Regions from separate parts of the Homo sapiens genome. Here region 1 is linked to region 2. The links come from fine-mapping of genetic effects on gene expression. A gene starts in region 2. The other region holds a variant in brackets. All regions are shown on one strand. Distances are from middle to middle.

Region 1 (5,373 bases), 53 kb before region 2:
CTTGCCACGTTCCCCAGGTTGGTCTCAAATTCCTGAGCTCAAGGGATCCACCCACCTTGACTTTCCAAAGTGCTGGAATTACAGGCGTGAGCCACTGCATCCGGCCTTTTTGTTTGGTTGTTGTTGTTGTTGTTGTTTAATAGACAAGGTCTCACTCTGTTGCCCAGGCTCGAGTGCAGTGGCTATTCACAGGTGTCATCACAGTTCACTGCAGTGTTGACCTCCTGGCCTCAAGAGATCCTCCTACTTCAGCCTCCCAAGTAGCTGGGACTACAGACTTGTGCCATCACACCCAGGTCAAGACAGTGGATATGTTTGATTATGGTGATGCATATGTTCAAGCCCATTAAATTGTAACATTAAATATGTGCAGCTTTTCTATATCAATGACACCTCAAAAAACTGTTTTTAAAAAAGATAGTGGTTATCTTTGACCAGAATAGGTTCAGGTAGTGACTCAGAAGGGGTCCTGGAGGGCTTCTGTTTTTAAATCTGGGTGGAAGTTACATGGATGTCTTTGCTTTGTGACAAGTTGGGCTCCACACTTAAGGTCTGTATATTTTACTATATGTATACGTCAAAAAAGTTAGAAAAGGCAATAGTCTTCTCGCACTTTCCTCTTCTAGTTTTTTTCCACTTGTACATCAGATCTCATTCCCTCCAACTTCCTTCAGCTTTGCCCTCTATTGTGCGTCTTTTCTCTTTCCAGTATTTCCAATTCCTCCTGCTTTACTGACTCCTTCCCTAGTGTGTAAACGTGCTCAATCTCTCCCATTCTGAAAAACGAACCATTTCCCACCCCAGCTAATATCAGAATTCATTCTTTCCCTTTATATCCAACCTACCAACTATAGTACTATAGGTTCTTCAGATCTCTATAGTCAACCTTCTTCCTTCTCCAGCCACAGACATTGCTTTCACCAGGGTCACCTATAACTTCCTTGCTGCAAATTCCAATGGAAACTTTTCAGATTTTGTCTTTTTAGATCACTATTGGATAGTTAGCCACTTCCTTCTTTGTAGCTTATGTGTATGTGTTTCCAAGCCTTTACATGTATGATTGCATTTAATCCTTCCAACCCTGGATGTAAGTACTAGTACTATCTCCATTTTACGAATAAGAAAACTGAGGCTAAGAGAGGTTAACTTGCCCAGTGTCACACAGCTAACTCCTACATAGCCGATCCTGTACATACTTGATGAAATGCTCTTTTCCCTTGATTTCTAAGACAACTTGTTCTTTTTTATCCATTTGTCCATGGGGTTTGTTTGTTTGTTTGTTAGTTTTGTGAGACAGAGTCTCCCTCTGTTGCCCAGGCTGGAGTGCAGCAGCACAATCTTGGCTCACTGCAACCTCCACCTCCCGGGTTCAAGTGATTCTCCCGCCTCAGCCTCCTTAGTAGCTGGGATTACAGGCACCTGCCACCAAGCCCAGCTAATTTTTGTATTTTTAGTAGAGATGGGTTTTCACCATGTTGGTCAGGCTGGTCTTGAACTCCTGACCTCGTGATCTGCCCGTCTCGGACTCCCAAAGTGCTGGGATTACAGGCATGAGCCACTGCGCAGGGCCATCCATGTTTTATTTCCTTTAGACATCTCTCTCCTCTGTCTACCCTTTAAATATTTGTGTCCCCTTAGGACTGTCTGTTTTTCATCTCTTCTTGGCCTGCATGATCTTTCTGGGCACACATTTGAATGGTTTTAATTACCACCTATATATTTATGGCTTCCAATTTCTTTCTCCATTCCATAGGCATCAGCTCTCATCTCCAGCTTGTACAAAACTGAACTTACCACCTTCCTCCTTCCTAAAAATCTGCTTCTCCTCTGTTCATTCTCTCAGTGGCACTATTTTTTACCCAGCTGCCCAAGCCAGAAACCTGGGAGCCCTCCTAATGAGTCTGCCTCCTTCCCTCACTCTGTGTATCCATTTTGTCACCAAGTTCTGCTTTTTCTATTTTCTGACTACCTCGTGTTCGTTCCTTCTTTCAACGGCAGTATCATTGCTCAAATTCAAGCTTCATCATCTATTGCTTGGCTATTGCAATAAAACTTGAACTTCTCTTCAGCAGAACTTCAGCTTCAACCTACTCACAATACTGCTGGCAAAATTAACACAGATTAGAGTCTGTTATTCCCCTGTACCTATGTGATAAACTCTAAACTCCGTAAAATGCCATTTAACTTCTGTCCTGTCCTTTCAGAACTTGGTGCCTACCTTGGGTCCAATTCCTCCCTCATCCCCT[A/G]TAATCAAAAATTACTAAGATTACTTGTAATTCAAACATATCATGATCTTTTTTTTTTTAACTTCTGTCTTTCATTTTTGTTTCCTAGCATGCCATAGAAACTCCAGAAATGTTTGTTAAACTAAATTTATTTTCTTCCTTCTTCAATTTGTAATATAGTTGCTAGTTTTCTTCCAGCCCACCTACCCCTGATTTTGTCCTTCTCCTTAAAGATTTGCCACTGTCTGGGCATGGTGGCTCGCACCCTATAATCCCAGCTACTTGGGAAACTGAGGACGGGGGATCATTTGAGGCCAGGAGTTTGAGGCCAGCCTGGACAACATAGCATGATCTCATCTCTTTAAAAAATGTCAGCCTGGTGGCTCTATGGCTTAGTTGGTTAAAGCGCCTGTCTCGTAAAAAATGTCAGCCTGAGCAACATTTCTACAAATTATTATTTTTTTAATTAGCTGGGAATGGTGGCACACTCCTGTAGTCCCAGCTACTCAGGAGACTGAAGCAGGAGGATCGCTTGAGCCCAGGAGTTTGAGGTTCGGTAAGCTATGATAGCACCACTGCACCTTCAGCCTAGACAACAGAGCAAGACCCTGTCAAAAAAAAAAAAAAAAAAAAAAAAAAAAAGACTTGCCACTAGCTTCTGGAGAATAGTCAACACAGAAGAAATCAGAGGCAAGAGACAGAGAAAAAGAAAGAGAGAAACAAAACGGACACACGCCTTGTGATGGTGCTGATCAGTCTGTCATTCCCCTACTTACTGGCCACCGTCCCCCTAGGACGGTGGAGTGGGCCCACAAGCCATTCCTGACTGATGTAACACATCCCCGAGAAATTCAGGGATGGACATGAGTATGACACAAGTGGTGGGGGGTGAGGTGGGAATAAGGCCATTTGGACACACGTGAATCATACGAAATAATGAGGGTTCTGGCTGGGTGCGGTGGCTCATGCCTGTAATCCCAGCACATAGGGAGACTGAGGTGGGTGGATCACCTGAGGTCAGGAGTTGGAGACCAGCCTGGCCAACATGGTGAAACCCCGTCTCTACTAAAAATACAAAAATTAGCTGGGTGTGGTGGCACACACCTGTAATCCCAGCCACTTGGGAGGCTGAGACAGGAGAATCGCTTGAACCTGGGGAGGCGGAGGTTGCAGTGAGCCAAAATTTCGCCATTGCACTCTAGCCTGGGTGACAGAGTGAGATTCCATCTCAATAATAATAATAATAACAACAACAAATTTTCTATAATAAAGAGGGATCCTATCTCCCAAAGAAGGAGTAAGGGAAAGCATTTGACCCAGCCTATCAGTCACTTTTTATTGATATCTTTATCCCAGCAACACTGTTTTTTTCTATTTTCCAACTACCCCATGGTTTCTGACTATAAAATGACTAATCAATAACAAGATCTTTCCTTTAATTTTACAAGGAAAAATTCTTGGAGTTGAAGCAGTATTGATACAATGCCCAGCAACACTCTGTTCCTGGGATAAAGATATCAATAGAAAGTGACTGACAGACCTGGTGCGGTGGCTCACAGCTATAATCTCAGCATTTTGAGAGGTCAAGGCGGGAGGATCGCTTGAGCTCAGGAGTTTGAGACCAGCCTGGGCAACATGGCAAAACACCATCTCTACAAAAAAATACAAAAATTAGCAGGGCATGGTGATGCGCACCTCCTGTAGTCCCTGCTACTCAGCAGGCTGAGGTGGCAGGATTGCTTGAGCCTGGGAGGTCAAGGCTGCAGGGAGCTATGATTGTGCTACTGCACTCCAGCCTGGGTGACAGAGTGAGACCCTGTGTTTAAAAAATAATAATAAAATAAAAAAAATAGGCCGGGCATGGTGGCTCACGCCTATAATCCCAGCACTTTGGGACGCCAAGATGGGCGGATCATGAGGTCAGGAAATTGAGACCACCCTGGCTAACACGGTGAAACCCCAAATCTACTAAAAATACAAAAAATTAGCCGGGCGTGGTGGTGGGCCCCTGTAGTCCCAGCTACCAGGGAGGCTGAAGCAGGAGAATGGCGTGAACCCAGGAGGAGGAGCTTGCAGTGAGCCGAGATTGCGCCACTGCACCTGGGCGACAGAGCAAGACTCCGTCTCAAAAATAAATAAATAAATAAATAAATAAATAAATAAATAAATAAATATAGTGACTGACATATAGTAGGCACTCAGTGTTAATCTCGCTGCCTCTTCCTCCATCTCATGCCAAATTAGAATGAATTCTTTGAATAATTTTTTACTCTTCTGTGTTCCCAGCACCTAGGCAGTACATGGCATGTACCCAGTTCATGATAAATGTTTGATAACTGATAAATATGGTGGAGATAGTATACAGATGGAAAAAACAACCGCCTTCTAGTAGAGTTATATGCAGAACTTTCTCCTCTGGCAAACTATAAATTCCCTAAGGAATTGTCCCTGCCATGACTTAGCAAAAGGACTTGCTGGTGAGAATTTTTCTAAAGATGAGACTGGATAGCCCCAGGTTGGATGAATTTGAGCAGCTTCTCCTCTGGAGAAGTTAAGTCTTATAAAGTGTGTGGCCACACTGCCCTCTGGAGACTGCAGATTCTTCTCAAGCATTGCTTAAATAGATCTTCCCATTAAGAGCCATATCCAGAACTCTGATCAATTTTGTAAAAGTTTTCATAAGTGAAGTGTTGCTGAAAAGCTCTTCTAAAATTCTCAAATAGAAATTTCTTTTTTAAAAGTTTTATTTTAGTTTTAATTGACACATAATAATTGTATACCAAATAGCAATTTTTAAAAATAGGGAGACCCAAGAGTTAAAAACACAAAGTTTTTCCACTGTTCTTTGTAAAATTTCTCATACTGAGGAAACTGTTTTTATAAAGCAACCATGTATGTTGCCATTACAGTGTACTGCATACTTATTAGACAATTGACAGGAAAAACAACTTTTGGCACAAGAATGCCAATTTATTCCTTTTTTGGACACATAAACACAAAATATCCCTGCAGGCCAAAAAAAATTGCAAAATTTAAACGACCATCATCTTATCTCAACATGAGGATACAACCCCTCCCTTAATAGTTTAGAAAGTACCTCGTATTGCTAGAGACATACATCCAGTCCAAATTTAATAAAATACATTTT
Region 2 (5,373 bases):
GCTAAAATCAAAACAAAAAAAAAAAAGAGTCCCTGGGCAGTGCCTAATATCACCAGGTTGATCCTTTCCATGAAATTCAGTTTATGCCCACAGTTACACAATTTCTTTCGATATCAGATCATAAATGCAACAGTTGTTTCAATTATGAATTACTAGGGGGAGGGAAGAAACATCTGTTGAGCATCTATAGGCACTAGTCTCTACAATAAGACTTATCATATACTCTCATTTCATTCTCTCAACAATCTTACAGAACATACTTATTATTACCCTCAATTTATAGACGAGAAAATGAAAGTTCAAAGGAATTGAGTAATTTTCCCAGGGTCATACAACTATTACATTACTAGATTGAATCTGTTACATTCCTAAAGACCTGAGCATGTCTTTAGCCAGGGGACATATCTGAAGTTAACCTGGCATAATACACTGAAGTTTATCAAACAATATTAATGCGGCAAGCCAATTTATTTTTAAAAGGCATATGAAATTTGATTATGAGGGCCTTTAAACAATACTTTAAGAAGCAAATTAGGGTGGGGCTTAATCACTCAGCTATGCAAACAAGTGCTAAGTAAACAAACGTGCCAAGTTTCCAAACTCAAATGGCAACTCGAATTTTCTACGCACTAAAAAGATGAAACACTCTACGACTAAGTTCATTATGTAGGTAAAGTTTGAATATTAAAGTGAATTCCACCACAGCCCCTAAACACTGAGCTACTTAGCCAAGGCATTAGAAACCTGTTGGGCTTTGAGGTGGAAGCACCAGGCCCCAATACTCAGGACACTTGTTACAGCCTGGAATGGTTCTTCTGGTTTGGATAGAGAGAAATAACCAGAGGCCATCCATATCCACAACAAATTAGTTTCCAAAGCACTTTCTCCTTCATTTGATCCTCACAACCACTCATAACCCAATTAGAAGAGAACTCAGGGCATTGAAGCCTGTGGTGGAGCAGACTGACTGGCAACTCCTGTGTCACTCAAAGGCTGGCTCAGACCACTCTGAGACTAACACACAGACTGAGTGACAGAGGCACAGGACCATGTTCTTTGGGACATCAGGGCCTTTCAGAAAGGGTGGGCATTTTGTCCCTTGACCTTCAGAGATCATGAGAGGTGTTTGGATGAAGTTCTTCTTCCTCATCTGAAGGCTCTGGACCATCTGCCAGTGCAAAGAAAAATAGGGGCGCGGCCCCAAACCAGGACTACCGGCTGGTAGTAGGCAGCGGGGCCCTTTTCCCGGTCTGGGCCAGGCCTCCGCGCGCACTGGGTAGCGGATCGCCCCCTTCTGAGGCCCAAACTACCCTCGTCGCGACCCCGGGCACATATCGTCTCCCCGAGGTGGGGCCAAGAGTGGCCTCCGCCCGGCAGCGCCGGTCACCTTCCCGAACCTCCCCCCTGGACCTCGGGATCCACCCAACGGCCGGCTGGGGCGCGGTCACCGCCCCCCAGGCCCGGGTCAGCTCCCTCCGCTTCGTGCTGCGGGGCTCGGGTCCCCTTCCCCGAGGCCTGGCGGCCCGAACCCGGCGAGGCGACGGGGCAGCGAAAGTCCCGGCCGCCCGCCCCGGGTCCCGGGTCCCGGGTCCCGCCCCGACCCGAGCTCGCTCCTCACCGGGTCCCAGCGCCTCCATGGCGGCGGCGGGGGCCGCCTCGCCCCGGTCCCCGGCGCCTCCCGCTCCGGGCCCCGCCGCCGCCGCCGCCGCCGCCGCGTAACGCTTGATCTCCGGAATATTGGCGCTGGGGTGGCGCCGCGGAGACGCGGGCGCTGGGCAGGGGGCGGCGGCGGCGCCCGGCCCGGGGACAGGGACCCGGCTCCGGCTCTTCCGGCCTCAGCGACAACAAAAACAATCCCCGCCGCCGCCGCCGCCGCCGCCGCCAACGGGAGCGGGAGCGGGAGCCAGCGCGCGCGCCCGCCGGGAGGGAAGGGGGCGCGGGGTGCGCGGACCCAGGGTCCCGGCGGGCGGAGGGGGCGTGCGCGGCCCCGGGCGCGGGGTCCACAGAGCCCGGCAGGCGGCGAGGCGGGTCGGGGAACGAGCGCGCGCCCGGAGGGTGCAGAGCCCGGTGGACGTGTCGGGCACGCGCCCGCTGGCCCGCTCTGCCCCGTCCACCCGAGGAGGCCGTCCGGTGGCCAACGGCTCTGGGGGCTACGTGCCATCCCCCCAGGGCGTCCTGCAAAAGATCTGGATTCCAGTTCCGCTGACCCACAGATTCAGTTTTCCACTTCTGTGAGTGGAAAGTGTACTGAGATTCACAGGAGCCACCTCGCCTCCCTCCTCCCTCCTCCCACCCCAGATCGCTTCTGTCATCTCGTCTTTTAGGGTCACCTTAGACGCTAGCAGTCCTCCTTCATCCCTTCATTCAGCACCACACACCCAACTGCGCGTCCCTCTCCGTATAGCCGGAAGGCACCACGGGAATGGACCCTGATGAATGATGCATTCCCTCCCTGGTCCCATGACAAGCGCCTCTGGTCAGCAAATCACCAGTCACTTTAGAAGAGAAAGGTCTTGGCCGGGCGTGGTGGCTCACGCCTGTAATACCAGCACTTTGGGAGGCGGAGGCGGGTGGATCACCTGGGGTCAGGAGTTTGAGACCATCCTGGCCAACATGGCGGAAGCCCATCTCTACTAAAAACACAAAAAATTAGCCGGGCGTGGAGGCAGGCGCCTGTAATCCCAGCTACTTGGGAGGCTGAGGCAGGAGAATCGCTTGAACCCGGGAGGCAGAGGTTTCAGTGAGCCGAAATCGGGCCACTGCACTCCAGCCTGGGCGACAGAGCAAGACTGTCTGAAAAAAAAAAAATAAAAATAAAAGAGAGAGAGAGAGAGAAAGGTCTTGCTTTCTTGGATGCCTTCCCCTTAGCAGACAAAAGCCAAGGGAGCAGCACCACCTCCAAGGCAGCATGGTCAGCCCAGCAGGCACAGCATCTTTAGGGCTTTCAGTAAGGACTTTGAGTGGGAGAACACTGGACAACAGGCCAAGAAGCAGTTTCTAGTCAGCAGAAGGAAGGAGCCCCTTGTCCACCAATTGAAAAGGTACGATGAGTTTGTGTGTGTGTGTTGTATTCCTTTGCTACGGCATAACGTAACAAAGTACCACAGACTGGGTGGCTTAAACAACAGAAATTTATTTTCTCACAATTCTGGAGGCTGGCAGTCAGAGATACGATGTAGGCAGGGTTGGTTCCTTCTGAGGCCTATCTCCTTCACTTGGTAGATAGTGGCCTTCTCCCAGTGACTTCACGTGGTCTTCCCTCTGTGCACGTCTGTGTCCAAATTTCCTCTTCTTATAAGGACAGCAGTCCTATTAGAGTAGGGCTCACTCTAGTGACCTCGTTTTAATTTAATTACCTCTTCAGAGACCCTGTTTCCAATTACAGTCACATCCTGGGGTGCTAGAGTTAGGACTTCAATATACAAATTATTGGGGTGGGGGATAATTTAGGCCCCTAGCATGTGTGGTGGGATATTCATTTGAGCACCTGCCATGTGCTGTCACAGAGCCAGGTAGTTTTTTTATGTAATGATAAAAAATATTAGCATCACATCCTGGCCATGCACTCTGCTATGGGCTTCTCATTGTCACTCAATCTTTACAACCACCAGTAAGGTAGATATTGTTAAGAAAGGTATTTGTACAGATGATGACACCGAAGCTCAGGGAAGTTAAGTAAGTCGGGCTTTGCATTACATGATGCTGAAGTGAAGCATGGGAAAAATTGGAGTTCAAATCTTGCATTTAAGTCCTGGCTAATTCTCTCCCTGATTGGCTATGGAACTAGGACTTTTATTTTTTTATTTTTTATTTTTTGAGACGGAGTCTCGCTCTGTCGCCCAGGCTGGAGTGCAGTGGCGCCATCTCGGCTCACTGCAAGCTCCGCCTCCCGGGTTCACGCCATTCTCCTGCCTCAGCCTCCCAAGTAGCTGGGACTACAGGCGCCCGCTACCACGCCCGGCTAAATTTTTTTTTGTATTTTTAGTAGAGACGGGGTTTCACCGTGTTAGCCAAAATGGTCTCGATCTCCTGACCTTGTGATCCGCCCGCCTCAGCCTCCCAAAGTGCTGGGATTACGAGCTTGAGCCACCGCGCCCGGCCGGAACTGGGACTTTTAATCTAGTGCCTACATTCTTGTCTACTGATACCATACCCTATATTCTTTTATTTTTTTTGACCCGGAGTCTCGCTCTGTCGCCCAGGCTTGGGTGCAGCAGCGCGATCTCGGCTCACTGCAAGCTCCGCCTCCCGGGTTCACATCATTTTCCTGCCTCAGCCTTCCGAGTAGCTGGGACTACAGGTGCCCGCCACCACGCCCGGCTAATTTTTTGTATTTGTAGTAGAGACGGGGTTTCACCATATTAGCCAGGATGGTCTCGATCTCCTGACCTCGTGATCCGCCCGCCTCGGCCTTCCAAACTGCTGGGATTACAGGCGTGAGCCACCATGCCCGGCCACCATACTCTATATTCTTTTCACAGCATCATGCTACCTCTCTGTTAAACCAGATAGTAACTGGAAATAGTAATAGGGGACAGAATGTTCAAAGGGGAGAAAGTATTTACTAAACGATCAGACTGCTGCACAGCTAAGAAAAGAAAAACCAACTAGAGTTGGCCGGGCGCGGTGGCTCACGCCTGTAATCCCAGCACTTTGGGAGGCCGAGGCAGGCGGATCATGAGGTCAGGAGATCGAGACCATCCTGTCTAACACAGTGAAACCCCGTCTCTACTACAAATACAAAAAATTAGCCGGGTGTGGTGGCGGGCGCCTGTAGTCCCAGCTACTCTGGAGACTGAGGCGGGAGAATGGCGTGAACCTGGGAGGCGGAGCTTGCAGTGAGCTGAGATCAGGCCACTGCACTCCAGCCTGGGCGACAGAGCGAGACTCCGTCTCAAAAAAAAAAAGAAAAAAAAAAGAAAAACCAACTAAAGTTCAAGTTTTTCACTTCACGCTAAGTTCCACCTACAGTTTAAACAATGCCGGTGTCTCCAATAGCCTGGTTTGTGGCTGACTCTCCCAACCCCACTTCCTAACAAAATTTCTCTATATTCTATTTGCTACCCTGAGCAGAGACCACAGCTTGTTCCCTGGACTGAAAATAGTTTTTCCACTAGCTTTAGAGGCTGAAGTATGAAATTTATTCACCCCATAGTTCCAGTTGGGACCGAAATGTCTCACTCAACAGAGTGATTCTTGATTACTCTGATCATCTACCTTCTCATTTCAAAACTCACTCTCACTCAAACACCCACTGTTCCTTTTCCAAAAACTATTCCTACAGAACCCTCCCAAACCAAATTTCTGTAGTCAATAAACTCCTCTAAACCTTGGCCTGCTCAGCAAGCCCTCCCTCCACTTCCTGCTGTGGCT

Evidence for each region. PIP is the estimated chance that this variant, and not a neighbour inherited with it, causes the effect.
Region 1: its variant is the best candidate, but not a certain one, in a credible set for the expression of AGO4 in T cells (TOPMed, PIP 0.85).

Annotation. Positions count from the first base shown.
Region 1 is chr1:35,857,469-35,862,841 of GRCh38, reverse strand. AGO4 (argonaute RISC component 4) reads right to left here. Exons shown (of 18, transcript NM_017629.4): 18 at 4,952-5,373. Among named protein-coding and RNA genes, the nearest start is that of AGO1, 23 kb to the left of the region's middle. The variant A/G (reference allele first, on the strand shown) is at 2,247.
Region 2 is chr1:35,804,681-35,810,053 of GRCh38, reverse strand. It overlaps AGO4 (argonaute RISC component 4), which reads right to left and starts at 2,038. Exons shown (of 18, transcript NM_017629.4): 1 at 1,619-2,038. The coding sequence starts at 1,637. CLSPN-DT (CLSPN divergent transcript) reads right to left here. Exons shown (of 3, transcript NR_199050.1): 3 at 3,114-3,309. RefSeq lists enhancers at 986-1,265, 2,365-2,864, 5,282-5,331 and silencers at 1,416-1,665, 1,946-2,155.